Linked DNA regions of Homo sapiens: all the other regions are reported to be linked to region 1. Evidence: microRNA targets listed by miRTarBase, many of them from high-throughput screens and not tested one by one. Region 1 holds a microRNA gene; each other region holds the end of a gene's coding sequence.
Evidence for each region. The annotated mature microRNA hsa-miR-191-3p reads GCUGCGCUUGGAUUUCGUCCCC and lies in region 1 at 1,217-1,238, opposite strand. An mRNA with a match to its seed (bases 2 to 7 or 8) in the 3' UTR can be bound and repressed. Matches are read on the target gene's strand: a 7mer-m8 pairs with bases 2 to 8, a 7mer-A1 pairs with bases 2 to 7 and ends in A, and an 8mer does both.

Region 2: the mRNA of MAP7D1 is a reported target of hsa-miR-191-3p. Seed matches in the 3' UTR shown: 7mer-A1 at 960-966.
Region 3: the mRNA of IFNK is a reported target of hsa-miR-191-3p. Seed matches in the 3' UTR shown: 7mer-m8 at 2,111-2,117.

What each region holds. Positions count from the first base shown.
Region 1 is chr3:49,019,415-49,023,570 of GRCh38, forward strand. MIR191 (microRNA 191) reads right to left here and starts at 1,295; the gene lies at 1,204-1,295. It overlaps NDUFAF3 (NADH:ubiquinone oxidoreductase complex assembly factor 3), which reads left to right and starts at 2,707. Exons shown (of 5, transcript NM_199069.2): 1 at 2,707-2,807; 2 at 2,932-3,124; 3 at 3,288-3,354; 4 at 3,462-3,562; 5 at 3,642-4,081. The coding sequence starts at 2,731. The coding sequence ends at 3,758. It overlaps MIR425 (microRNA 425), which reads right to left and starts at 820; the gene lies at 734-820. It also overlaps a transcript of DALRD3 not described here. RefSeq lists an enhancer at 1,794-2,563 and silencers at 2,079-2,281, 2,318-2,507, 2,728-2,827, 2,868-2,987, 3,048-3,097.
Region 2 is chr1:36,179,509-36,183,664 of GRCh38, forward strand. It overlaps MAP7D1 (MAP7 domain containing 1), which reads left to right. Exons shown (of 17, transcript NM_001388490.1): 14 at 7-49; 15 at 158-248; 16 at 366-559; 17 at 740-1,341. The coding sequence ends at 750. Among named protein-coding and RNA genes, the nearest start is that of MAP7D1, 25 kb to the left of the region's middle.
Region 3 is chr9:27,524,289-27,528,288 of GRCh38, reverse strand. IFNK (interferon kappa) reads right to left here and starts at 3,999. Exons shown (of 2, transcript NM_020124.3): 1 at 3,328-3,999; 2 at 1,791-2,282. The coding sequence starts at 3,952. The coding sequence ends at 3,329. The region is part of intron 1 of MOB3B (MOB kinase activator 3B); the gene reads left to right.

The DNA.
Region 1 (4,156 bases):
GCGGTTTTCTTCTCTTGATACCTGAGAAATCACAACCATCATGATGGCTTCCAGAATTACCAGACTTTTTTTTTTTTTTTTTGAGACGGAGTTTCGCTCCTGTTGCCCAGGCTGGAGTACAGTGGTGTGATCTTGGCTCACCGCAACCTCCCCCTCCCGGGTTCAAGTGATTATCCTGCCTCAGTCTCCCAAGTAGCTGGGATTACAGGCACGCGCCACCACGCCCGGCTACTTTTGTATTTTTAATAGAGACGGGGTTTCTCCATGTTTGTCAAGCCTCGAACTCCCGACCTCAGGTGATCCGCCTGCCTCGGCCTCCCAAAGTGCTGGGATTACAGGCGTGAGCCACCGCGCCCGGCTCAGAATGACCAGCTTTTAATGTGACTCCTTTAACCTGGTGTGCTTTAACAACGATCCTTAAAGCTTCCTGTTTTAGGCAACAGCCATTTACGGGCCAACCAAATAATGCGACCATAATAGAAAATAGGCCTCAGTTGGAGTATCTTGCTCCTCTACCAATAGGAAAGGTCTTTTTCTTTCTCCCACAAAGGTTCCCAAATGTCTTCATTTCACTGTAACTTACTCACCCCCCACCCCACCCCCATTCCTTTTAATAGAGAAGCTAACTCAGTAGAGAGAGTTGGGAAATCCGGAGAGCAGGGAAACCCAGGGGCAGGAAAAGCTTGGCAAGGCCCCTTTCTGGGCCAGGGCTGAGGCCCTGCTGGGAGGCGCCGAAAGAGCACTGGGCGGACACGACATTCCCGATGGCTTCTCGGGTGCCCACTCAACGGGAGTGATCGTGTCATTCCAAAGCGCTTTCCATTCTGAAGGTGCATGACCTGGAGACAACTGCTTAGCAGGGTTGGGAACCCTCAGTCAAACTGAGGACTTCAGATACTCTCATCCACGAAGACGGTTGGGGTGGTTTTTCCCCAGGAAGTAAGAGGGCTATCTTTAGCGAGATGCGGGCTGAGGCAGCCCTGGGGGAGTCACTACCATTGCAGCCCTACCCAGAGGTCCTGGGTCCACCCTCCCTCGCCAATCCTCCCCAGGGTTCCAGAGATGGCCACCAGCCTCGGCTCTCCCACGTCTACACCCATCACCTCCAGCCTGAGGGCGCAACTGAGAGGAACTGAGACCCAAGCAGCTCAGTAAAGTATGTCTGGGGGTCAGGGGCACCCCATCTGGGCCAGGGCGCTGCTCAGGCAGGAGAGCAGGGGACGAAATCCAAGCGCAGCTGGAATGCTCTGGAGACAACAGCTGCTTTTGGGATTCCGTTGCCCGCTGTCCAGCCGTTGGCGGGGGGCGGGGGAGCTCCTGCCCCCAGGTCACTCGCCCTGGGGCCACATCAGAACCCGCCCATCCCCAGTCCCAGGAGGAAGACCCGGGAGTAGGTTGTGAAACGGAGTCTAGAGGGAACAAGACGCTCACCTGGGCCACAGAACAATAGAAGGGGAGGTGGGGGCCTCCCCTGGGACCGGGTCCCGATCCGGATTAGATCCGTGGGGCAGGATTAGCCCTGTTGGTCCCACGAAGCCTGGGCCACTGGTGCGGTGACGGTGGTGGGGCGGGCTTCGGAATCCGTCAGGAGGGAAGCGCGCCCGTGGGGCCGGAGAGGAAGTAAACCCGCGCGTCCACCTCGGGGACACCCCCGCGCTCGGTGGCCTTTGTCCGGTGACGCTGCCAGCGCCCGGAGCACCAGGGGCCGAAGGGGTCCACAGAGCAGCCGCGGGACCCCCGGAAACCCATTGCGACCGGCCCCAGGAGACCCACCACCAGGCTCCCACTGTGCCGAGCTTCCCGCTCGCCCGGCCCCGCGGGTAGCGAAAGCGACAATGTTCCCCTGAGGCCACGACAGAGCCGGCGTGCCGAGATGCCCAAACCCCGCGCGGGGGCCAGCGACTCTCGCGCCAGTAGGCCCTTGACTTGGATCAAGACGGGGGACGGGGGACTCCCAGGACGCGAGCAGAGTGAACGAGGACAAGGTGATGCTCCACGCGCTTCTACTTCAAGTCTGGTCCGGTTCGGCCTGGTCTGGGCCAGCCGAACAGCCACCCAAACACTATCACAGCTTGCCCTTCCGCTTGCTCTGGCTGCCTGCAGACTTGGAGCCATTTTAAGGAGAAACCACCTGGCCACGCCCCCTAGAGAACCCGAGAAGCCAATCCACGCTCGGCCACGCCCCTCTCCGCGCGCTGCGGAGAGGCCAACGGTCGCGCGGGTGACGGTTAGGGCGGGGCGTGCTTCCGCGTCTAGCCGGAGAAACTTGAGCCGGCTGCCCCGCCCACGGTGCCCGAAGCCCCAAAGGCTGGAATTAGGGGCTAGAAGTCTGGCACCCACCGCCTGGCCAGGTGTTCGGGACGCGACCAGGTGGGCGGTCGCCCCGCCCCGGGAGCGCGGCTTAATAGCTGAGAGCCCGGGGGCCAGGCCGCGGCTGCGGCCCAGGCAACGCCCTGAGGGTGGCCACGCTGCCAGGTGTTCCACTCCCCCGGGACTATGGGCAAGGGCCCGGGGCGGGGAGGGCGGCAGGTGCTGACACTGGAGCTGCGCCGGAGGTCGGGGAACTCGGCCTCCTAAGACTGAGGACACTCGCCTGCTGGGCCGGTCGAGCTGTGCGGTGCCCTCCGGGACGCAGGGGGCGCTGCAGCCACGCTGGGTCAGGCTCCGCAGGGCCCTCCCAACCCGGGGACTAACGGCGCCGGTGACGACTTCGCCGCGCGTTGGTCAGCCATGGCCACCGCTCTCGCGCTACGTAGCTTGTACCGAGCGCGACCCTCGCTGCGCTGTCCGCCCGTTGAGCTTCCCTGGTGAGCTTGGACCCCGCGCCCTCGACCATCCAGCCCCCTAGGGCCGGCGACTGCCAGCCCAGCACCTTCCGGCCTCTCGGGCTGCCCGGCCCGGCCCCGCGCCCCTGACCCTTTCCCTCCGCAGGGCCCCGCGGCGAGGGCATCGGCTCTCGCCGGCGGATGACGAGCTGTATCAGCGGACGCGCATCTCTCTGCTGCAACGCGAGGCCGCTCAGGCAATGTACATCGACAGCTACAACAGCCGCGGCTTCATGATAAACGGAAACCGCGTGCTCGGCCCCTGCGCTCTGCTCCCGCACTCGGTGGTGCAGTGGAACGTGAGTCCTGGCCCGCAGTGTGGAAACTGAGGCCCAGAGTCACAGGCCCTCACCCTGCTTGGTCCCTGCAAACTTGGCTTTCCTCTGTCTCCTCCTGCAGTGGATGGAGATGGGGAGAGGCTGCGTGGATTTGTCGTATTAAATGTGCCTCCTCCCTGCACAGGTGGGATCCCACCAGGACATCACCGAAGACAGCTTTTCCCTCTTCTGGTTGCTGGAGCCCCGGATAGGTACTGGGGAAGGGGAGGGAGAACAGAGGTGTTCTGGGCCCCAGAAGGCGACCCCCACTGCAGCCTCTCAACAGAACTGTAGACTAGCCACACCCACCCTTCCCTAGAGATCGTGGTGGTGGGGACTGGAGACCGGACCGAGAGGCTGCAGTCCCAGGTGCTTCAAGCCATGAGGCAGCGGGGCATTGCTGTGGAAGTGCAGGACACGGTGAGTCCCGGGACTGGGGCATGCTGCGGGGAGCACAGGCCTGGCGCTAGACAGGCTGATGCTGGCCTTTTCTTTGCAGCCCAATGCCTGTGCCACCTTCAACTTCCTGTGTCATGAAGGCCGAGTAACTGGAGCTGCTCTCATCCCTCCACCAGGAGGGACTTCACTTACATCTTTGGGCCAAGCTGCTCAATGAACCGCCAGGAACTGACCTGCTGACTGCACTCTGCCAGGCTTCCCAATGCTTTCACTCTTATCTACCCTTTGGCACTTATCTTGCTTATCAACATAATAATTTATACACTTCTCCCATTTTGTATCAGGTGTGTTGCTGGCCAGGAGCTGATGGCTCACTGGGCTCTTGGAGGGGAATGTGAAGAAACCAAGGAGTCACTTTTTCATCTAGATTACTTAGGATTCCTTGACTTTTCAGAAGTCGGGAAGCAGTATGTTTGCCTGTTGTAGACCTACTTGCTCACATGCAGATTTGAGAGGACCTCAACGGCTTTTCTCACAAAATCGCTGATTGTTTTTCTTTTTTTGAGATGGAGTCTCGCTGTCGCCCGGGCTGCAGTGCAGTGGCGTGATCTTGGC
Region 2 (4,156 bases), not on the chromosome of region 1:
AAGCAGAAGCAGGACAGCAAGGAGGCCAACGCCAACGGTTCCAGCCCAGGTAAAGCCCCCATTCCTCTCGCCTCCCTTCCCTTTGCCATCCTCCTCCTCCTCCATCCTCACCTCTCTTGCCAGCCCCTGGCTGATGGCCCCTCTTTCCCTGTGACAGAGCCTGTGAAAGCTGTGGAGGCTCGGTCCCCAGGGCTGCAGAAGGAGGCTGTGCAGAAAGAGGAGCCCATCCCACAGGAGCCTCAGTGGAGGTACCAGCTTCCAATCCCAGGGTCCCTGAGCAGGGAGGCAGACTGCAGCTGGAGCTGCGGGGTGGCCTGGGCTTTCCTGGGAGGTGAGGTGCTGAGCCTTGGCCTCTGCATCCACAGTCTCCCAAGCAAGGAGTTGCCAGCGTCCCTGGTGAATGGCCTGCAGCCTCTCCCAGCACACCAGGAGAATGGCTTCTCCACCAACGGACCCTCTGGGGACAAGAGTCTGAGCCGAACACCAGAGACACTCCTGCCCTTTGCAGAGGCAGAAGCCTTCCTCAAGAAAGCTGTGGTGCAGTCCCCGCAGGTCACAGGTAGATCTCCTGATTCCTGGACCCAGCTCCATTCCTCCCAGCAGCCTTCCCTGTACTCCTCAGCCCTGCCTTCTCTTCTGGCTCTGCCAGGCACCCTCTCCTGCTCCACCCTGAAGACCCCCAGCTATCTGGGCTTGAGTGCTGTTTGCCCTGACTGTTTCCCTTCCTGTTTTTCCCCAGAAGTCCTTTAAGAGGGTTTGCCTTGGATCCGGGCACAGTTGTGAGGGCTCCTCTGCATCACCTACCAGGATGTCTGGAGGAGAAAAAGACAGAACAAAGATGGAAGTGGCCTGGGCCCCTGGGGGTGGGTCCTCTCTGTTGTTTTTAATCTGCACCTTATAGACTGATGTCTCTTTGGCCGGAGCCAGATCTGCCCCTCAGTGCATTCGTGTGCTCGCACGCGCAGACATCCCTTCTCCCCCATACACACATATACACTCACAGCCTCTCTGGCCTCTTCCCTTGGGGAGGGGCCACCTGTAGTATTTGCCTTGATTTGGTGGGGTACAGTGGATGTGAATACTGTAAATAGCTTGTGCTCAGACTCCTCTGCGTGGAGAGGGTGGGTGCAGGAGGCAGACCCTCCCCCCAAAGCCCCCTGGGGAGATCTTCCTCTCTCTATTTAACTGTAACTGAGGGGGATCCCAGGTCTGGGGATGGGGGACACCTTGGGCCACAGGATACTGGTTGCTTCAGGGGTACCCATGCCCCCTGCCCTCGCCTGGAATCAGTGTTACTGCATCTGATTAAATGTCTCCAGAAATAAAGAATAATTCTGCCAATCCTGCCTGTTCTTGGAGCTGGTGGCGGAGGTGGGAGCAGATGGCCTCCTGAGTTCTAAGAACTGAAGAAGCCTCGGGCTGGTGGTATTAGTCCTGAACTCCTGCCCTATGGTCTTCCAGTTTAGTCATGAATTCATTCATTTATTTATTCAACAAATACTGTTGCATCTACTCTGTGTCAGGCAGTAGGCTATGCACTGGGGATGCAATAGTCAGAAAGGATGTAATCTCTGTCCTTGTGCAGTTTATAGTCTAGTGGGTGAGTGTCGTGGACACTGTGGGCTGCCCACTCAACATCTATTCCCATTGCCCCTTCCTCATTCCAAATAATCTCTATTCAGGTAGCCATCTTTCTTTTAGATGGCACCCTGTGCTTCAGTGGAGGTGGATCTTAGCCGCAGGGGTGAATCGTGATTGTGACTGGGATCAAAAACAATGGTCCCAAACCCCTCATGATTGACTGGTGTAGGCATGGACATGTGACACAGTTTCAGCCAGTAGACATGAAGGGAAGCCTCCTGGGGGCTTCAGGAAGGGTATCCTCATTTTTTTTTTTTTGAGACGGAGTCTGGCTCCATCGCCCAGGCTGGAGGGCAGTGGTGCAATCTCAGCTCACTGCAACGTCCACCTCCCAGGTTCAAGCGATTCCCCTACCTCAGCCTCCCGAGTAGCTGGAACTACAGGCGCCAGCCACCACGCCTGCCTAATTTTTGTATTTTTAGTAGAGATGGGGTTTCACCGTGTTAGCCAGGATGTTCTCTTATCTCCTGACCTTGTGATCCGCCTGCCTCGCCCTCCCAAAGTGCTGGGATTACAGGCGTGAGCCACCGGCATCCTCATTTTTGACAATGTGGTCGTCAGCCTCTGTAATGACCTCTCGATGATGTCCCCTACCTCCTAGTATTCACACCCTTGTGTAGTTCCTTCCTATGTTGTATCAGGGTTGGGTTGAGTGGCCAATAGAATACGGCAGAAGTGATGGTGTGTCACATCTGAGATTAGGTATAAAAAACACTGCACTCATGCCTGTAATGCCAACACTTTGGGAGGCCAAGGCCAGTAGATTGCTTCAGCCCAAGAGTTCTAAGACCAGCCTAGGCAACATGGTGAAACCCCATCTCTAACAAAAATTCAAAAATTAGCCAGGCGTGGTGGCACATGCCTGTAATCCCACCTACTCAGGAGGCTGAAGTGGGAGAATCATCTGAGCCTGGGAAGTCAAGGCTGCAGTGAGCCCTGATTGTGTCACTGCACTCCAGCCTGGGCAACAGAGTGAGACCCTATCTCAAAAAACAAAAACAGGACAGGCGTGGTGGCTCACGCCTGTAATCCCAGCACTTTGGGAGGCCAAGGTGGGCAGATCACGAGGTCAGGAGATCGAGACCATCCTGGCTAACACAGTGAAACCCCGTCTCTACTAAAAATACAAAAAATTCTCCGGGCGTGGTGGCGGGCACCTGTAGTCCCAGCTACTCGGGAGGCTGAGGCAGGAGAATGGCATGAACCTGAGAGGCGGAGGTTGCAGTGAGCCGAGATCGCGCCACTGCACTCCAGCCTGGGTGACAGAGGGAGACTCTGTCTCAAAAAAAAAAAAAAAAAGCAGCAGCATTTAGGCCGGGCATGCTGGCTCATGCCTGTAATCCCAGCACTTTGGGAGGCTGAAGCAGGCGGATCACGAGGTCAAGAGTTCAAGACCAACCTGGCCAACATGGTGAAACCTCATCTCTACTAAAAATACAAAAAATTAGCCGGGTGTGGTGGTGCGCGCTTGTAGTCCCAGCTACTCGATAGGCTGAGGCAGGAGAATCGCTTGAACCTGGGAGGCGGAGGTTGCAGTGAGCCGAGATCTTGTTACTGCACTCCAGCCCAGGTAACAGTGCGAGACTCCATCTCAAAAAAAAAAAAAAAAAAAGCAGCATTTAAACTGGACCTGAAGAAGGATAGGGAGGAGCCAGCCTTGTGAAAGGAAGGAGGAGGCAAGTTGCAGATGGAGGGGTCAGTATGCAGGAGGCTGGGAATTCCAGGGACAAAGGAGCAGGAGCTCCTCTTGCTGGAGCATCAAAGGGGAGAGGTGCTAGATGGGGTTGGAGAGGTGGGCAGGGCTAAGTCACAGCGCTCTAGGGACAGTAAGGGGCAGGAAGGGACTAGCACACTCATTCAGCTCTCTGCTTGGTGAGAGCTCCTATATGTATGCCCCTCCCGGCCTCCCCTCCTCAGCCATCACCCACCAGCTCCTATGTACAGTGAGGCAGAGGTGCCAACATTTCCCTGAAGGGCAGAACTCTGAATACTCTTATGGGGGAATTGTTTACTCATTCATTTAGTCAATCAGTAAATTGCCTGTGGAGCACCAGCTGAGCACCGGAGGGAAACGATGGTAAGCAAAAACCAGACGTAGAAGCTCCTGGCGCTTCCTGGCAAGGAAGATGGGTATAAACCAAATCACCATATCACCACAGGAACAAATGTTAAAAAAGAAAATGTGGTGAGTGCTGTGAAGTCAAACATAGGGAGCAGTTAAGAGCGTATACAGGGGGACCTAAACTAGCTTCAGGTCGGATAAGATATCCCTGAATGAATGGTGTGTAATCAGATCTGATGGGTGAGTAGGTGTTGACTGGGCAAAGTCAGGAAGGTAGAGAAAGAAGGAGAGGGAAAGGACTGGATTCCAGAACAAGGGAAACCACATGCACAGGCTGTGGATGGGAAGGAGGTATGTTCAAGTATCTAGAGGACTAAGCAGAGCTGAAGGAGTCTGTTTTTGCTCACCCCAGAGCCTGGTGGAACAGGCACTCAATATTTGTTGAATTAAGAA
Region 3 (4,000 bases), not on the chromosome of region 1:
GGGAGGGGATCGGGGCACCTTTGGTAGGCGGAAAGCTGAGATTCTGGGGTCCACAAGTTTCCAAGGGCGGGAGGGCAGGCTAGTCGCCAAAAAGAGAACGAAGATGCAAATAACGAGGAAGCCTTATGACGTTGCCTGGAAATAGTAGTGTGGTGGTTCACTCCGGAATGAACGTGGAGTTCTGGCTTTGAGTACCGCTCCAAGTTTAAATCCCAAGTCCCCTTTCTTCATTGTAGAAAAAGAGGACTCAGACGACGCAACACAGATACGGCTAGAGCACAGTTCCTGCTTCCACGTCCCAGAGAACAAGTGGCTTAGGATGGTCCCGAGTTCCCCTGTGGGTGCGCTTGTTGGGTTGCAGGCGGCCCTGTTTCCCTGCACAAGTCAGATGCTTACACATTGTGTTCATTCTTAGTGTGGATTATTGATTAAAGAACTGGGGCAAAAGCAAAGTAGCTACTCTGAGAAGTCAGGGTCCCCAGATGGTGCCCAGCGAGTTGTCTTGCCTCTGAGGGGAGGCTGACTGAGACTGTGCACCTGTTAGAACCTATGCTACCCCATAGCCTTGCAGTTGACTTGCTGTTGCCAGCTTTTCCTGTGGGATCCCCAATGAGTCCCTCTTCCAAGGAAGCTCAATTACACTTTTGATTCCTCCTCAACCCAGGGGAAGAAAGAGGCTTCTGTAGGAACATTATGATCTATGTACCCACTCAGACATTGTCAGTGGATACCAGAAGCTTGGCTCTGCACAGCTCTGAGAGTTTTCCCTTTGCGAACTCAACAGAACTTTTGAGTTTCCATTTAACATAAAAGAAGTGAGACTGCTAAGCCAGGAATGCGACACATAGAGCACTTTCTCTAGTGATTTCTGGGTATTATATCTCTTTACCTTCCCAACGGTGGAACCAGGAAAAGAAAAAAAAGCAACATCTTTGAAGTACTGCAAGGCACTTTACAAACATTTCATTATGAAAATGATCCCCAAGGAAGGATTCCTTTGAAATTTAGCAGCAGCAACCCAGAAGCAACAAAAAAGACCAAAGTTACTCAAGAAGTACCCAAAGGCATCATTAACAAAATAAAAGAGCATTTCTTGTCTTGGCCTACCCCGCTAAGGAAAACAGGGTAATTATAGTGGAAGTTAAGCTTGTACAGTTTCTTTTAGAATTAAAAATCTTCCCAAAAAAATCACTATAGGAAAAAATAGAAAATATCGAATGGTGAAAATGAATGTAAAAGGGGGAGATATCATAAACCTATTTCCTTGGAATAAATTTCGGAAGACGTGATACCTAGGTCACAGGGGCTGATGCGTTCTTTAGGATATTGAAGATTGCCATATTTCCCTGTAGAAAACATGTCCCAGTTTACTTTCCTCCCAGTAATGCACAAAGGCTCCTATACCTTACACTCCACTCACATTTTATATTGTCATTCTTTTTCTTTTCTGTCATACTGATGGGAGTATCTTGTCATCTTATTTTGCATTTAAAAATCAAGTTAGATTAAACATTTTTCACATTGTCTGTAGTATTTCTTCCTTTGTGATGATGTCAGTTTGTGCCCTTGCCTTTTTTCCAGTGGAGATGTTATCCTTTTTCTTTTGATTAGATGTGATCTTTAAAAAAGCATACTGTTCTGACTTCTACCCCTGCCACACATTCAGAAAATGTATATTAACTGAAAGCTCAGCTCGGCTTTCTCAGCCATTCTCTTTCCTCCAGGATAGCAAACACTTGGCAGGACTGCAACCATAAATGACTAAAGTAATTGACCTCATTCCAGTAAAGTTATTAGAGAGAACAGGCAAAGACTTTATTAGAGAAAGTCATGAAAAATAGCAAGTATATATTTTATGCTCAGTAGCTTGCATGTCCTAACTCCTTTACAAGCTTGTAGTACTATTTTTAATCTGGAACAACTCTGCTGATAGTTATTTTTACTAAATGGTTTGCACTAACTCATTTTATTGTCTGATCCTTCTGCTGATAGCCTGCATATACCATGATCCACAATTTGTTCTTGTTCTTTTAAACATCTCTTCTAACTTCTTGGCTGAAATTTGCCTCACTTTTATCATAAGACTTTCTTTGGCTATAACATTTGGGCCCTGCGCTTGGAATAATCTTGAATCTGAACAGTTTGGCAGCATGCTGTTAGTGGCATGAGCAGGAAATGGCTTCCAAGGGCAGAACCAGGTACATTTCAGATATATTTCACCCTTTTTTGGTGCATTTGCGTAGCCACAATCTCTGTTAATTCTTGCTTGAAGGTAGATGATTCTGAAATGGGGTAGATAGAGGTGCGAGAGGAAGAGAAAATCCATGTCAGCTAGGTGGTGAATTAATATAGATGAAGGGCCGTGCTAGAAAAGTAAATAATCTAGGTAGTCTGGCTGCAAAGTAACTTTTAAAAAGATAAAAGATATTAAAGTATTATGTATTATTGGAATAGCTAGTTAAATTAACTCACAGAATGTAGTCTTCTAACTAGGAAAATCTAATGTAAAATTGTTCCATATTATGACTCTGGACATTTTATTTCAGGCACATGAAAAACAGTAAAAGACAGATTCTGTACCATACTTTTCCACAGCATTTTCCATGCCTTTAGATGTAGGAATCAAACAATATACATCAGGAATGAAGAGTGTGCTACATTAGAATCACAGACTCTCAAAGGTTAAATGAAAGCTTAATGGTCGTCTAATTCAACCATCCATCCAATTTCACTATGGATCTTCACTCTTAAAGTAATGAAATACTATTCCACAAGCATCAATTCAAACAAACCAAGCTGAGAAGGAAATGGGCCAGAAATGTCAACCTTTTTCCCCCCGAGCAGGAGGGGGAAAATGCAAGAGTATTGACTCTAGGGAGCATGTATAAGCTCTTTTAATGTGCTGAATTTTCATAGGATAAGCAACCTTGGCAGCAAAACAGTTAAGTCATTGAAATGTTACCATTTTGCAACATTCTCTGCTCCCTATCCTCTAGCCATTGTCTTGGTGAAGTCCACAGGTGGTATATATAGCAAAGCTCTTTCAAAATGGCCACAGAAAAGAGCAAGAGAGAATAGAAGAAGACGGAGAGGGAATCTTATTCCTTTAAAAATGTCTTAAAGACTTTCTAAGGAGACTCTTGGTCACCCTGAGGATGGTTGGCATTACCTCTCCTTAGAGAGGTGAGTGTCCCTGATGTTCCGAGGCTACCAGTCCAACTGAGGACAGGCTTACAGGACAGCACAACAATCCTTAAAAAGAAGTTGGAGGAGGAGAAGGAGAAAGAGATTTCGGAGGGAAAAGGAATTTTAATTCCAAAAATATACCTTATTTCCTCCTGAATAGAGCTGTAAATTTGTAAAAGTAATACAAACATCTTCTGATTTCCACTCGGACAATCTCCCAGGCACAGTCACTGTATTTCTTTTCTTTCAGGAAATTGTCTATCCTGTGGAAATATCTCCTCAGTTCCAGGCTGCTCAGCTGGGGGACCCTGGCTTCTGAGGGTTTCATCTCATTCTCTTTCATTTCTTTCATGTCTTCATTTTCATTCTTGTCTTCCTCCAAGCATTGGTTCAGGTACTCTGCTTGCTGATCAAGTCCTATTTGGATTTGTTTGAGGTGTCTCTCTTTCCAATATTTGAAGGTGTGTTGGCTGAAGATGTTGAAGGCCTGTAGGGACATTTCATAGAAGGCCTTCTTGATGTCCCTCTTCATAGGTTGGGTGTATTGCAGAAACTCTTGGGGCAACTCAAAAGCTATGTTTTCTCGTAGACATTCTACAGGAAATGAATTGCTCATACTACTCAGATGTCTCAGATTTTGCCAGGTGACTCTTCTCAGGTGAACGTTCAGTAAGTTACAGTCCAGGGATAGGGTGCCAGCAATGAATATACCCATAAGGATCTCAAGCCACAAACACTTTTGAATCATATCAGGTTTGGTGCTCATTTTTTTTGCAAGCTAAAAAATCCAGAAGATGTGTATATGACAATGATG